Linked DNA regions of Homo sapiens: region 1 is linked to region 2. Evidence: fine-mapped expression QTL. A gene starts in region 2. The other region holds a variant in brackets. All regions are shown on one strand. Distances are between the middles of the regions.

Region 1 (8,339 bases), 21 kb after region 2:
TTCTGCATACACATTAAATTCAATGTTTTGGGGTATGTGTGTTACTTTGGAATTAATTAGAAAGCAAATTACTTATTGTGTGAAAGATGATTTATTTTTAAAATGCTAACAATTTATTTACAATTATACTTTATAACACTTTTAATAGATACTTATTTTTAAATCTAGATGCCAGTGAGCCACACATAGATTTAGTATTACATGGAAATTGAATAATTTAAAGTTTAATTGTTTGTAGGACTTTCCTTTTTTGTGAATAACTAGTTTCTTTAATTGGAATGTTTTAAATTAATACATTCACCATTTTATTCCATGAAATTTTTCTCTTGTAGTTTATTTGGCAACCCAAGGAGTTAATCCTAAGGAACATCCAGTAAAACAGGAATTGGTAAGATTTTAATTTCTTTTTATTTTATGTGTTTGTTGTTGTATTCCTGAGGTTTGTCACACTACCTTTGTCACACAAATTAGGGAGAACAGAATTCGAGTTGAAATTATGAAAGTGAGCCAGACCTTATTATCTTTGGGTTTTTTTTTCTCTTACCTTTTTCAGATAATTGGTATTCCATATATTATATAAATCTCGGAATGGGAAAATGTTACGATTCTAGTAATTATTTATAACTTACATATTATTTTTCTTATAAATTCTTGAAATCCTGTTTATCTCTAGAACTACTTTTTTTTTTAAACTTCTGTACAGTTCTTAAAAGTATATTCTAGTTGATTTACTAGCAAAGACGGGAAAGTTTCTCCCTCCCACCTTTTCAATTCCTCCATTAATTCATTTTCTCAGCAGTAAAGAATCCAGTTCAGCAACAAAGCTAAAAGCTTTTTTGGCACCAGCTGTATGTGTACTGTCCAGTAATTCTGCATTAGACATATTTACAACCTGTAATAAATCTTCTAGGTTTGTCTTTGTATTCCATTTAGATGTATAAGTACAGTATATAAGGTCTGGTATCTTGGAGTTTTTGCTGACTTCAAAAATTAAATCAAATCATTCAATTTGAAGAGAAAAATTAGAAATCAAACTTATGGTTACCTTCTTGACTTGGTTTTATGAATAAGAATATTAATAAATTGATTCTTTGTGTTTATAAAATATAAGGCAAATATAGATATGAAATACACTTGACATTGTATTCTTGTTCTCAAGTTTTAGGGTAGTTGATATGTATGTTATTTACAGCTTAGTAAAGCACTTGGTCCTTTACTTTTTAAAAATGAGTAAGCCAGATCTGTTGTCTTCAGTTTTTCAACATGTAGTCTAAGACATTTCCTTATTTTGAAGTTCTTGGGGGGGAAAATAAATTTATTTTTAAATAAAACAATTGTGAAAAATATTTAAAGCAAAAGTATAAAGCAATATGATATGCAGGTCTTGGTTTGACCAGTGATACGGCTTTAAACCTTTAAAATGATGGCTTGTATCATCTGTTTTCAACTTCCTAATATAGACTTTGCATACAATTTCTCTTTTTTCCATTAACATGAAGTTATTTGGAATACTTGATACTGTCTTTGTGAAAGGACAAGGTCATTTGTTTTCTTTCTACCTCAGAATCTACTTTTGAAGTAGTACATTAATATTCTAGATAAGGGTTGGTGAATAAAAAGCATGCATAAACCTCTTCCCCTTTTCTTTTTCTTTTTTTTTCTTTTTTTGAGATGGAGTCTTGCTCTGTCGCCCAGGCTGGAGTGCAGTGTCGTGATCTTGGCTCACTGCAAGCTCCACCTCCCGGGTTCACACCATTCTCCTGCCTCAGCCTCTCGAGTAGCTGGAATTACAGGCGCCTGCCACCACGCCCAGCTAATTTTTTGTATTTTCAGTAGAGACGGGGTTTCACCATGTTAGCCAGGATGGTCTCGATCTCCTGACCTCGTGATCTGCCCGCCTCGGCCTCCCGAAGTGCTGGGATTACAGAGCCTGTTCCCCTTTTCTGACCTTGCGTAGATGTTACTAATTGATCACAGACTTAGTGTATGATAGGAAACTTATTTGCCGTATGTATCACAAATGGGAAAAGTCAGTTTACTCATTCAACAGATATTTGAGTGCTTACTGGGAGCTAGGCATTATTTCCAAGTGAGAGATGATTCCTCTGTGAGTAATGCTGATCCCTGCCCTTGTGGCAGACACCAGACTGTATCTAATGGAGGGAGACAAATAATAAAGTAAACAAATAAGAAATATATATGAATATGTAGTATGTTGGAAAGTTATGGGAACAAAGAAAAAGAGTAGGGTAAGGGGGACTGGAGTGCTTGGATAGGACTGCAGTTTTAAATGCTGAAGTCAGGGCCTCAATGACAAGGTTAACATTTGAGTAGACTGGAAGGAAGAGAGGAAGTGGCCGTATGGGTAATTGAGGAAATATCCTTCTAGGCAGAGGAATAAGCAGGGCAAAGACCCCAAGGCAGGTTGGTGTGTGTGTGCTGTAGCTAGTATCCACCATCATAAGCACTGTGCTTTTTTATTCAGACAGAAATGGGACGTCACTAGAGAGTGTGGAGCAGAGTTGCCAGTCTTTCACAATGAAAACATTTTAAGATTCTGCATTAACTATGTTGATTATTTTAATAAAGCTTGTTTTTAAGCAGTGATCAGTCTTTTACTCTGCTGTTTTATGGCTGTCATCAACTTTATTTCTTCATTTGAAGCGTAAGATAGCCATTTATGCTGATTAATTGTCTCAGAAGATTCACAGTGGTACAGCAACATATTATGTTTCTCACCCTGTAAAGTCTGATTAGAACTGTATATTTTATTAGAAAATTTCATGTACTTACCAAAATTATAAAATTGAATAATTTGTATTTTCATTCTCCCTAATTGTTACACTAGATGGTAATGTGAAAAGATAGTTAAGTACTACCTCATGTATTTCCTGTTTAGAAAAATTTCAGGAGAATTTAGTTTGTATTTTGCAAGTATATGAAAGCTCCGGTTTTTTACTTTAGATACAAAACAGTTAATATGTAGATTTATGTTAATGGTGTTTTTCAAAAATGTATAACCACCTAGAAACTTTCAATTCGATGTTTATTTCTGGAGTAATGTCTTAGTGTGATTCTAACTCTTTGGAAACAGAAGACTTCTGAAATGACTTTTTAACATCTGTCTTTCCCCACCCTCCGACTATGAACTCCAGGCAAGCAGGGAGCGTATTTATCCTATTCATTTGCATTTCCTAGCACCATGCACTTTAATAGGCAATAAATACATATATGTTGAATTTAACCAAGGTGTACAGTATAATAAAATTCAGTGGTGGCGAATAGCTTAGTAAATCTATTGCCTTTGTTTTTTATCTTTAAGGAAAGAATCAGAGTATATATGAACAGAGTCAAGGAAATAACAGACAAGAAAAAGGCTGGCAAGCTGGACAGAGGTGCAGCTTCAAGATTTGTAAAAAATGCCCTCTGGGAACCAAAA[T/C]CGAAAAATGCATCAAAAGTTGCCAATAAAGGAAAAAGTAAAAGTTAACTTTTTGGTTTTGATGTACACATATTCAAAAAGTACATCTTCCCCCCCCCCCCCCCCCCCGCAAAATAATTCTGTGGCAGGGCAAGGTTTAAATGTGTTTCTTATTAATATGTAAATTCACAGTAAATATGTAAAGCTAAATACTTTCCTCTCCAAAGATCATTATCTTTATTGATTAGCACTGAGGATTTTAACATTGTGATATATTATATATTTATAATTTACCATCTCTTGATGAGACTCTTATTTCTTTATATAGGTCAGTCTTGCAAGTACCATTTTATAAGCAGCTGTGAAATTTAAGTGAAATGTTCTTTGTAAACATTTGTACTATTTTAAATGAATAATGACCTTATGAAGTATGCTATCTGTAGGCTGAAATTATAGGTACATCTGTTTTCACTATATGATATTAAGAAAGCGTGAAATGACTTAAATGTTCATTTTTTTCTGTATAGATACTTTATCATGTTTTCATGATTTTAGGAATTACTGCTTTGTTGATATTCAAAGTGTGAAACTAAAACTTTATGGTTGTACTTTAATTCTTGGCATGTTGCCTCTATGTCCCATTTAAAATAAAATACATTCTCATTAACTTTAGATGGGAAATAAGGTTGTATGTTGATGGATGAATTTTGGCATGATGACTGTACTCTCAATAAAGGCTGAAAATGTTGTATAACTGACCTGTGTATTTTTATCTTTTGAGTAAATTTGCCTTCCAAATTAGGAAGATAGGTTTTAGAAGTCATCACAAATAGAGAAATTCTTGAGTTTTTGTTCCTGATGCATGGTGTCCACAGTTCTTTTCATCTCATTTTTTTTCAGATTTTTTTTATTTCATGTTTTTGAGGCTGTATCAAGTACATACAAGTGTTTTGGAACAACTTCTTAAGTTACCTAATGCCACTTAAGCAGATGAGAAGTCCAAAGGAGATTACACTGTGTTTGTATTGTGGTTTATTTTTCTGGAATATTAGTTACAGAGAGTACTACATAGTAAACCTTTTTTTAAATGTCTAAGCCCATGAATTTTAATTATATGCCCTTAATGCTTTCAGTGTTTGAATCCATATCATTATGTGTAGGAATGCCAAGTATAGTAAAGTACTTTAATTTTTGAAAAAGGAGTTGTTAAAATTTTCTGTGTGATTAATTCTCCATAAGTAACCTTGAATAAATGGATTTCTTGATTTATGATAGCAGATATTGGAAATGGTCTTAAAATGTAATGGATTTTGTAAAGCATGTTGAACTCTTTCTATGACACATGAAGAGGAAGTCACTGATAGACGCAGAAGGTCTTTTCTGTCTCTGATGTCAGTTTTTGAAGTGGAAGAACATTAGTGAACATTTATAGTTATTTTACTCCTTTTTTTGCCTTTGTCTCCAAATTTCTAGCTATTTTTAAAAATAACCTCTTCATGAGAGAAATGTGTTACTGTTAAGATCAAGTGTAGTGTACCTGTCTTTGTGTTATTTATTGCAAAGAAATTTATTTGGATTTCTGTATATTTTCTAATTTCATAAAAGAAAAACAGCTTAAATGAAAAATGTTATACAATTGCAGAAAATCATTATTGGTTTTAGCTAAGTTATTGGTTTATGAAAGTGCACCTCTACGTTCTGTTAAATTGTGTAACTTTTAAGTGAGTAATTCTTTCATTATTAGGTAGAAATAAAAGTTTGAGTATATTCCATTTTATTATGTATAATTTTAAATACTTAGCACGTAATAAGGAGCTGAATGGCTGTAGTGCATTGGGTTGCTTATTTGCTTGTTGTTTGTTTATTCTTTTGACAAATATACTTAATGACATTTATATTGCCAGATACAGTGCTAGGTGCAACGTTCCAAAGACGATAACTACGGCCTTTATCCTATCTTTATAAGGTGTTAAGAAAAAAATAGTCTTTTTATTCAATTCAGTTTCTCAGAGTTATGGGAAAATTTATGACAAATTGTGCTCATTAACCTTATTCAGAACCATAAAGGGTGATGTGTGTGGTTGATCTATTTGACTATGGTGCAGTTCTTGTTAAAATAGTTTGTTCCACATGATAGTCTGCTCTAAGTTTAGATGTTAATTACATCTTTTATTAATCTCTTTGGGAATTAACAAGTTGGAGAAGTTGCATCTATAGATATTTTTAAGATTAGAATTATAGTCTATTAATCTTGTACTAAATAATGAGATCTTGCATTTTAATATTATTTTAAGTACAAATTTTTTCTTGTTCATAGTTGTAAGGTGGGAAATCCTTTTAGTAAAACAGAATATGTTGAGTGAAAAATTGAAGCTTGAATTATGTTACATTCCTGGAATTAGGAAGTTATGTCAGGTTGATTAGTTTTAAGATACCCTGTAGATTAAAAAATCCTTCTACTTAGCAATTAGAAATGGATTGGCATTATTTCTAAATAAGGTATTTAAAATTGACCAGAAGTGTAGGAAAGACTTCAAAAATGGACAGCGTATTGAATGTAAATACTTTTTTCTTAAGTAGGTCACTGGAGAAAAAGATACTTTAGGAATCACTCAGTTTATCATACAGTTAAATTATAATTTTATTCAATAAGTTACCAGAAATTCTGGCTTTGCAAAGTGACATTAACTAAGAAAGATGTGAACAGTGACTCAGCCTCATGTAATAGCTAAATTTGGTATCTAAAGGGAAGAAAAAGCACTGATGTCTCATTTTCTCCCTTCATAGCATAGTTAGAAAACCTGCTCAGATAAATTCAGTGGCTCTTTTCCTGAATGATCTTGGTAGCAACGTATTTTATATCAATGTGACGTGAACATAATTTACAAATATAAACATCTATCTTTCCCTATATTCTGATCTAAAACTCTCCAGTTTTGGAAATACAAGCCATATTTTGTTCATATATTAGCATTTTATAGTTGTCATTAACAACTATGTTGGCAGAAAGTATACAGGATTTTATAATGGAATTCTGTAGATTTGTTTCATTTGAATAATTTGCTATTATATTACCTGTTAGCGGGCTTTCAAGAAAATGATTTGAATGTTTTTTGGTTTGCATATTCATTTTCCTATCAAAGTGGGTGTACAGCCATAGACTACTCTTTAGAATAGCCACCCTCTGACTTGATGTGCCTTTTTAAAGTGCTTATTTATGGCATAACTTTTTATTATTCCCTCAAGAAGTCTGAGATTATGGCATAATTTTTAACACAGCCAGAAAGATTAGTAAAGTGTTCAGAAAAGAGAGAGCTATAGTGATAGCTATTGGCAATTGAGGTTTAATTTTTAACTTTATATCTCCCAACTCCCTGCCCAGCTAGAAACCTAAAGCCACCAGCTCTGTGTTAGTCATCTGTTCTTAAAAGGTTGAAACGAGATGCTGGTTTTTACTCCCTCTCCCCACAATTAGCCTTGAAGTTTAGCAAATCTATCATAGCAGAATAACTGTATGCAAGATGTCAGTTTTGTAAAGTGATATATTTCAGACAGTATACAAAATTTGATGGGGGAAAAATAAGCTTTTATAAATGAAACATTTAAGAGACTCTTTTATTATTTGCTTTTCAGTTTAGTGTTGCCTTTAAGGTGTACCATTTCAGTTTGGCAGCTGCAATAAATGAAGAAAATTGAAGATGATAATTCAGCATTTCAAGATGCTTCTGCTGAAATGAATGTAGACCTATCCAGAGCTTGAATTTCAAGCTTACAGTAATACAATATTTTAAAGCCAAGTACCCAGGCAATTCATAGTGATATGATTTGAATGAGATTATTAGGAGGAAGAGAAAGAATGCCTTCAATTTCTTGTTATGTAGGTATTATCTATTGAGATGCTATGTTGAAAAATGTTATTGTAAAAAGAATAGAAGCTTGTTATACCCACTTTGTTATAGAGTACAATTTGTCTTGGACCTTACACAAAAAACTTTAGTTATTAAAATAGCAAAATTAGAATCACCTCTGATTTAGTGCTAGAGCATTGGATTGCCTATAGACCATGTTCTAATGTGTGTCTGGTATTTTTTTTCATTTGATGGCCTTTAATCTCACTAATAATGCATTCCTTACTTAAACAAATAATTTGCTTCCCTAGTTTTGATACTTTATTATTTTTCCCTTAAGAAAGAGATAATTATTTAAAAGTTGCTGGATTTTGTGGGTTTTGACATTTGTGACTTTTAACACTTGTGATTTTTACTATTTGTGAGTGACTTTTAGAGGTCCATGGAGTATAGAGTTATTTTGTAATTTTGCCAAGACATAATCTTAATTCCTGCTAAATTCCATGCAGGAAGGCATTATTCAGCTAATGATTTAGCTTGGCTAACCTCTTAGCATCCACAGTTTTTTTTTTCCCTCACTTGCAGTCTCATTCATTTATTCACTCATTCATTCAACAAATATTTATTGAACTCCTGTGTACCATGTTCTGTTTTAGGCATAGGAGATTCAGCAGTTATCCAAACATGGTTGTAGTGGTTGGGAGCTGTCAAACTTTTTATCATGTGATAAATGGCTTCTATGGCGTGAATTATGTTCCCCTAAAATTCATACATGGAAGTCCTACACCTCAATACCTCTTAATGTATCCTTATTTAGAAATAAGGCCATAGTAGATGTAATTCATTAGGGTGGATCTTAATCCAATATGCCTTTATAAAACCGGGAAATTGGGACACAACATGCACACAGGGAGAACACCTGTGAAGATTAAGGCAGAGTTTGGGATTATGCTTCTGTAAGCCAGGGAATACCAAAGATTGCCAGCAACCACCAGAAGCTAGGTGAGAGGCCTGGAACAGATTCTCATAATCCTCGGAAGGAACCAACTTTGCTGATCCTGTGACTTTGGACT
Region 2 (8,316 bases):
TCTGGTTTGCCAGTATTTTATTGAGGATTTTTGCATCAATGTTCATCAGGGATATTGGTCTAAAATTCTCTTTTTTTGTTGTGTCTCTGCCAGGCTTTGGTATCAGGATGATGCTGGCCTCATAAAATGAATTAAGGAGGATTCCCTCTTTTTCTATTGATGGGAATACTTTCAGAAGGAATGGTACCAGCTCCTCTTTGTACCTCTGGTAGAATTCGGCTGTGAATCCGTCTGGTCCTGGACTTTTTTTGGTTGGCTATTAATTATTGCCTCAGTTTCAGAAACTGTTATTGGTCTATTCAGGGATTCAACTTCTTCCTGGTTTAGTCTTGGGAGGGTGTATGTGTCGAGGAATTTATCCATTTCTTCTAGATTTTCTAGTTTATTTGTGTAGAGGTGTTTATAGTATTCTCTGATGGTAGTTTGTATTTCTGTGGGATCGGTGGTGATATCCCCTTTATCATTTTTTACTGTGTCTATTTGATTATTCTCTCTTCTTTATTAGTCTTGCTAGTGGCCTATCAATTTGGTTGATCTTTTCAAAAACCAGCTCCTGGATTCATTGATTTTTTGAAGGGCTTTTTGTTTCTCTATCTCCTTCAGTTCTGCTCTGATCTTAGTTATTTCTTGCCTTCTGCTAGCTTTTGAATGTGTTTGCTCTTGCTTCTCTAGTTCTTTTAATTGTGATGTTAGGGTGTCAATTTTAGATCTTTCCTGCTTTCTCTTGTGGGCATTTAGTGCTATAAATTTCCCTCTACACACTGCTTTAAATGTGTCCCAGAGATTCTGGTATGTTGTGTCTTTGTTCTCATTGGTTTCAAACAACATCTTTATTTCTGCCTTCATTTTGTTATGTACCCAGTAGTCATTCAGGAGCAGGTTGTTCTGTTTCCATGTAGTTAAGCGGTTTTGAGTGAGTCTCTTAATCCTGAGTTCTAGTTTGATTGCACTGTGGCCTGAGAGACAGTTTGTTATAATTTCTGTTCTTTTACATTTGCTGAGGAGTACTTTACTTCTAAATATGTGGTCAATTTTGGAATAAGTGTGATGTGGTGCTGAGAAGAATGTATATTCTGTTAATTTGGGGTGGAGATTTCTGTAGATGTCTACTAGGTCTGCTTGGTGCAGAGCTGAGTTCAATTCCTGGATATCCTTGTTAACTTTCTGTCTCGTTGATCTGTCTAATATTGACAGTGGGGTGTTAAAGTCTCCCATTATTATTGTGTGGGAGTCTAAGTCTCTTTATAGGTCTCTAAGGGCTTGCTTTATGAATCTGGGTGCTCCTGTATTGGGTGCATGTATAGGTAGTATAGTTAGCTCTTCCTATTGAATTGATCCATTTACCATTATGTAATGGCCTTCTTTGTCTCTTTTGATCTTTGTTGGTTTAAAGTCTGGTTTATCAGAGATTAGGATTGCAACTCCTGCTTTTTTTTGTTTTCCATTTGCTTGGTAGATCGTCCTCCAGCCCTTTATTTTAGCCTATGTGTGTCTCTGAATGTGAGTTGGGTCTCCTGAATACAGCACACTGATGGGTCTTGACTCTTTATCCAATCTGCCAGTCTATGTCTTTTAATTGGAGCATTTAGCCCATTTACATTTCAGGTTAATATTGTTATGTGTGAATTTGATCCTGTCATTATGATGTTAGCTGGTTATTTCGCTCATTAGTTGATGCAGTTTCTTCCTAGCATTGATGGCCTTTACAATTGGCATGTTTTTGCAGTGGCTGGTACCAGTTGTTCCTTTCCATCTTTAGTGCTTCCTTCAGGAGTTCTTGTAAGGCAGGCCTGGTGGTGACAAAATCTCTCAGTATATTTGTCTGTAAAGGATTTTATTTCTCCTTCACTTATGAAGCTTAGTTTGGCTGGATATGATATTCTGGGTTGAAAATTCTTTTCTTTAAGAATGTTGAATATTGGCCCCCACTCTCTTCTGGCTTGTAGAGTTTCTGCCGAGAGATCAGCTGTTACTATGATGGGCTTCCCTTTGTGGGTAACCTGACCTTTCTGGCTGCCCTTAACATTTTTTCCTTCATTTCAACTTTGGTGAATCTGACAATTATGTGTCTTGGAGTTGCTCTTCTCGACGAGTATCTTTGTGGTGTTCTCTGTATTTCCTGAATTTGCATGTTGGCCAGCTTCACTAGGTTGGGGAAGTTCTCCTGGATGATATCCTGAAGAGTGTTTTCCAACTTGGTTCCATTCTCCCAGTCACTTTCAGGTACACAATTCAGATGCAGATTTGGTCTTTTCACAAAGTCTCATATTTCTTGGAGGCTTTGTTCATTTCTTTTTACTCTTTTTTCTCTAAACTTCTCTTCTTGCTTCATTTCATTCATTTGATCTTCAATCACTGATACTCTTTCTTCCACTTGATCAAATCGGCTACTGAAGCTTGTGCATGCGTCACGTTCTTCTCGTGCCACGATTTTCAGTTCCATCAGTCATTTAAGGACTTCTCTACACTGTTTATTCTAGTTAGCCATTCGTCTAATCTTTTTTCAAGGTTTTTAGCTTCTTTGCAATGGGTTCAAACATCCTCCTTTAGCTCGGAGAAGTTTGTTATTACCAGTCGTCTGAAGCTTTCTTCTCTCAATTTGTCAAAGTCATTCTCTGTCCAGGTTTGTTCCATTGCTGGTGAGGAGCTGCATTCCTTTGGAGGAGAAGAGGCGCTCTGATTTTTAGAATTTTCGGCTTTTCTGCTCTGATTTATCCCCATCTTTGTGGTTTTATCTACCTTTGGTCTTTGATGATGGTGACGTACAGATGGGTTTTTGGTGTGGATGTCTTTTCTTTTTGTTAGTTTTCCTTCTAACAGTCAGGACCCTCAGCTGCAGGTCTGTTGGAGTTTGCTGAAGGTCCACTCTAGACCCTGTTTGCCTGGGTGTCACCATCGGAGGCTGCAGAACAGCAAATATTGCAGAATGGCAAATATTGCTGCCTGATCCTTCCTCTGGAAGCTTCATCTCAGAGGGGCACCCAGCTGTATGAGGTGTCAGTTGGCCCCTGCTGGGAGGTGTCTCCCAGTTAGGCTACTCGGGGGTCAGGGACCCACTTGAGGAGACAGTCTGTCCGTTCTCAGATCTCAAACTCCGTGCTGGGAGAAGCACTACTCTCTTCAAAGCTGTCAGACGGACATTTAAGTCTGCAGAACTTTCTGCTGCCTTTTGTTCAGCTATGCCTTGCCCCCAGAGGTGGGGTCTACAGAGGCAGGCAGGCCTCCTTGAGCTGCGATGGGCTCCACCCAGTTCAAGCTTCCTGGCCACTTTGTTTATCTACTTAAGCCTCAGCAATGGCAGACGCCCCTCCCCCAGCCTCGCTGCTGCCTTGCAGTTTGATCTCAGACTGCTGTGGTAGCAGTGAGCCAGGCTCCGTGGGCGTGGGACCCTCTGAGCCAGTCACGGGATATAATCTTCTGGTGTGCCGTTTGCTAAGACCGTTGGAAAAGCACAGTATTAGGATGGGAGTGTCCCAATTTTCCAGGTACCGTCTATCATGGCTTCCCTTTGCTAAGAAAGGGAATTCCCTGATCCCTTGTGCTTCCCGGGTGAGGTCATGCCTCGCCCTGCTCTGTGGGCTGCACCCAGTGTCTGAGAAGCCCCAGTGAGATGAACCCGGTACCTCAGTTGGAAATGCAGAAATCACCCATCTTCTGCGTTGCTCATGCTGGGAGCTGTAGACTGGAGCTGTTCCTATTCGGCCACTTTGGAACCTCCCCCAAAACTTTAAATATTACATACATGGTGCTTGTTCAAAATGCTTTTACATGCATTTAATATACGGACAACTGTTTCATGCATAACTTTTTATCAAATTACAGCCGTGGAATGACAAGTTACAAATGTTAAGACAATGCTCAATCGCTTATACTACACTTTCAATGAACAGTATGTACAGTTTCTGTTAATGCCTTTATTTTCTATTATGTTTGTTCTGATTGCATACATTGAAATGCAATTTTACATTTATTTGAAACTAATAAAAAATTTGGGCTTGTATTTTGCACATATTTTCCCCATTTTTCTACTAATTCATTTTTACTGTATTTTATAGAAGTACCTTTTACTGACAGATTGGAAAAATAAAGAACCCATTCTTCCCCACGGATAATCTAATAAAGAACCTGTTCTTCCCCACGGATAATCTGGGAAGCTGCTCTAAGAGGCTCATCTAGAGGCAGACAATAAAAGGGTAGAAAGAATGAGGGCCCTGAAAAAAGCTTCTGGGAAAGTAAAAACCCGAACAAAGTTTCGATAACTAAGATTTTTTTCCTGGTTAAATACACTCAACCTGTATTTGGGGTGAGTGTTAGCCGGGTACAAAGGTAGACAAAAGTTCCGAGTGCCGCCGCAATCGTCTCCCACAACATGGGTCTGAGCTACTCAAAATGAGATTTGCCTTTGGAGAAGAGTTAAGGAGCAGGGGGCGTGGCGAGCAGCGTGAGATCATCGGGAAGCGCCGCTCGTGGCGGGGGCAGAGCCGGCGCGTCATTGTCGTCATCGTTGCCCGACCGCTTTCCGGGAGACTGGAGTCGAAGGCCGTGAGGTATTTTTCTAAGGTGTAGTTTCAGTTTTTCTCCTGCTCCTGTTTAACTCCGCTTTTCCTCTCCTGGGATTCCCCTGTCATCCTCTGGGCAGACTGAGAAAATCGGAGTTTGGCTGCGTAGCCTTCCAGGAATGCAGTCTCTCACAGCTCTTCGTTGGGGCAGCATTGTTGGCAGGTCCCCCACTTCCGCTTGTTTTGGGGCTGCTTGCAGGCTTTGGCTTACCCCGGCCCCTCATTTCTCTCTTTTGCTCCGGTCTCTCTCTTTTTCTTCGTTTGTTAACCACCCCCTTCTCAAATCTTGGAAGACGAAGAAATTAAAAACAAAAATCAAAAAACATTGAAGTCTTCACAATTTTCAGCTGTTTTCAATCTTGCTTAGGGAGAGAGGCTAAAGTGGAACGTCTAGGGGAGTAACTTTACTGTGTTAGCTCCGTTTATCATTCACATTCACAGACTGCCTGCTGCTGCAGTATTAGCTCATCTGAGATAGTGGGCTAATTTCGACCTTTAGCTGAAATCTGTAGTGGGTAATCCAAGAGAGCAGTTTTTCTTGATGACCCGGATAAGTTCAGTGTAACTCAAACTTGTTTCAAAATAGCTTTAATGTCCTCAATGTTTGCTGACTACAGTTCAGTTTTGGCTTGATAAAGATGTATTTGTCGCAATGAGATGTTTGCTATCCACTTATTAACCTATTAGGACTGTCTGATGGTGGACTGAACCAAGACTTAACCGTGATTTTTTAAAAAATTAAATTTAAAAATTTTGTGGGTACATAGGTGTATATATTTATGGGGTACACGAGATGTTTTGATACAGGCATGCAATATGTAAGAATCACATGGAAAATGGGGTATCCATCCCTTCAGGCACTTATCCTTTGTGTTACAAACAATCCAGTTATACTTTTAGTTATTTAACTCTGTATTTTTGATTCAAAAACAACAGATTAGCCCTATTGAAGTACAGAGAAATGTTTGTGTTTGGTGGAAATGATAGAACTCATTGTTTTGTTGAAAGATAGTGACAAGTGTGAATAACGGTTTTTCAAAATAAAATTCTCAGTCAAAAGATACTACAGCTGCCTTCAGTTAGCTGTGTTGTATGTATCACAGTTCAAAAGTAATGTAATTTTTTTCTTAACTGCTTTTACCTTTTCAAATGGCTCTTCATATGTATTATCTCAGCTACTGTTTCCAAAGTTGACCCTTCAAGCATGGCTCTAAATAGTTCACATTGGATTAGAGTATTTGGTAATTTTCACTTTTAGTAAAATACTATCTAATGTATTGAGTGCTAACTGAGCCAGGCCCCGTTCTAATGGCTTTTATCTAGTTTATTTAATCTGTGCAACAACACTATATACTCTTATTTCAGAAATAAGATAATTGTAATAATCAACTTCCATATGTTTTGGAAGGTAATTTTGCTGCTTGATTGCTGTAATTTTGGAAATGCTTTGAATTAAACTTTGAATAGAAGTGAATTTAATTTAATGTAATTGTTCATCTCAATCTTGAGCAATATCCTCGTAATTTATATACTCTCCTATTAGACTTTGGGATAAATTTATTTTTAGATGTTAATATATTTTTTAGAAAAGGAAGAAGTCTATATTTACTCAGGAATTGTACTGTGGGACTGAAGGAGAGTTACAGACAACACTAACATGGAGTCACTGTTTGCCCAAGACAGCAATATTTATTGAGAACTTGTGTGTACATTTCATTGTTATTTTCTCCTAAGATAATGCAGTGCGAAAAAGTCATTACAGTAATTCATTACAGTAATAGAATTCTGGTGCAACAACAGCAAATGGCTCTCAAATTCCAAAAAACAATCATGTTGGATTTGTTCTTTGGCTTAGTTCATAACTGTGTATAATTATTTGGTGTAGAGATGGGAAGAGCCCTGGAATGTACATTATCGTATGTTTGTTTGGATCCATGTGGTGACTTTCTAGTATCTGTAAGCTCAAACTGTAATCTGATATTAAGAGTTTCCAAAATTACGTCTTAGGTTACTTTGATTGGTTTTAGTTAGTAAACAAATAGTTGCTAACTAACTAATACATGACAAGACATTATGTTAGTGATGTGGAGTTCAAAATGTGCCTCGACATGAATCTTCCCTTGAGCAATAGCCCAGTGAGTAAATAACCAATGGAAAGGTAGGAGGAGAGGAGTGACATGATCTGACTTAGGTTTGTTTTATTTTATTTTATTTTACTTTATTGTCTTTTGTTTTCTTTTGTTTCCTTTCCTGCCCTGCTCTGCCCTTGCCCGCCCTGCCCCACCCCATCTCGCCCCTCTTTTCTTTTGGAGTCTCACTCTGTTGCTCAGGCTGGAGTGCAGTGGCACAATCTCGGCTCACTGCAACCTCCGCCTCCTGGGTTCCAACGATTCTCCTGCCTCAGCCTCCGGAGTAGCTGGGATTACAGGCACCCGTCGCCATGCCCAGCTAATTTTTTGTGTTTTTAGTAGAGTTAGGGTTTCACCATGTTGGCCAGGCTGGTCTCGAACCCCTGACCTCAGGTGATCCGCCTGTCTCAGCCTTCTAAAGTGCTGGGATTACAGGCGTCAGTCACTGCGCCCAGCCTGACTCACGTTTTAATAGAATCTTCTCTGGCTGCTGTGTTTAAGAATAGTTTGCTGTGGGGTGGGGTAGGTGAAAACCAGGAGACTAATCACGGAGGTGTTGTAGTTCAGATGAGATGATAACATCTTAACTGGCTGGAAAGAAGTGAAGGTGGAGAAGCAGTTTAATTTTAGATGTATTTTCTAGGAAAAGCAAACAGAATTGCTTACAGATTGAAAGTGAATTGTAAGAATAAGGTTATTGTCAAAGTTTGGGGCTTGAGCAACTAGAAGAAGGGAATTGCCATTAACTGAGAAGTAGAAAACTGTGGGAGGGGCAGGTTTGTGGGAAGATTCGGAGTTCAGTTAAGGACATGATAAGTTTTTGATGTCTGTTAGTCATCTAAGTGGAGATGTTGAGTAGGCAGTTGAATATGTTCATTCTGGACTTCAGAGTGGTCATTGCTGGAAACAGACGTTTGGGAATTGTCAGTGAACAGATGGTATTTAAAGTTGTGAGACCGGAGACAGTCGTTAAAGGAGTAAATGTAGACAGAAAAGAGAAGGGGCACAAGGCCTGAGTCCTTAGGCATTTTAACAAGTTGGGAAAATGAGGAATAACCACCAAATGAGACAGACTGAGCAGCCAGTGAGGGACAAGGACAATTTTGAGTCTGGTGTTGTAGAATTTACAGTAGAGTAGTATGTTCAGTTTTGTCAGGTGCAGCTGATGGATCAGGTGAAATGAAGATTGACACCTTTGGATTTATCAAGAACTTAAGGAGTGTTATTGATAGATATGTGATAATGTTAAGTCAAGCAGATAGTTGCACACCAGTGTGATAACTGTATTACAGTTATATTCAGAGAACCTTGGGAGCAGAGGAAGAAGAGACCACTTTTGTTTGGGAGGTATGGACACCTTTATAGAGGAGGGAGCATTTGAGGTGGGTTTTAAAGGATTGATAAGTTTCACTAGGCCAAGAAAATGGAGACTGTTATGAAGAGGAGGTTGATATGATTTGGGTATGTGTCTCCTCCAAATCTCTTGTTGAAATGTCACTTCCAGTGTTGGAGGTAGGCCTAGTGGGAGATATTTGGGTCATGGAGGCAGATTGAATGTCTTGGTTTGTCCTTGAGGTAATGAGTTGAGTTCTCACTCTATTAGTTCACTCCTAGAGCCGGTTGTTTAA

The links.
Region 1: its variant is fine-mapped to the expression of C1D in whole blood (TOPMed, PIP above 0.99).

What each region holds. Positions count from the first base shown.
Region 1 is chr2:68,038,037-68,046,375 of GRCh38, reverse strand. It overlaps C1D (C1D nuclear receptor corepressor), which reads left to right. Exons shown (of 5, transcript NM_173177.3): 3 at 1-32; 4 at 333-388; 5 at 3,323-5,246. The coding sequence ends at 3,487. Among named protein-coding and RNA genes, the nearest start is that of C1D, 21 kb to the left of the region's middle. The variant T/C (reference allele first, on the strand shown) is at 3,440.
Region 2 is chr2:68,059,189-68,067,504 of GRCh38, reverse strand. It overlaps C1D (C1D nuclear receptor corepressor), which reads left to right and starts at 4,501. Exons shown (of 5, transcript NM_173177.3): 1 at 4,501-4,547. RefSeq lists enhancers at 4,150-4,650, 4,403-4,812, 3,734-4,933.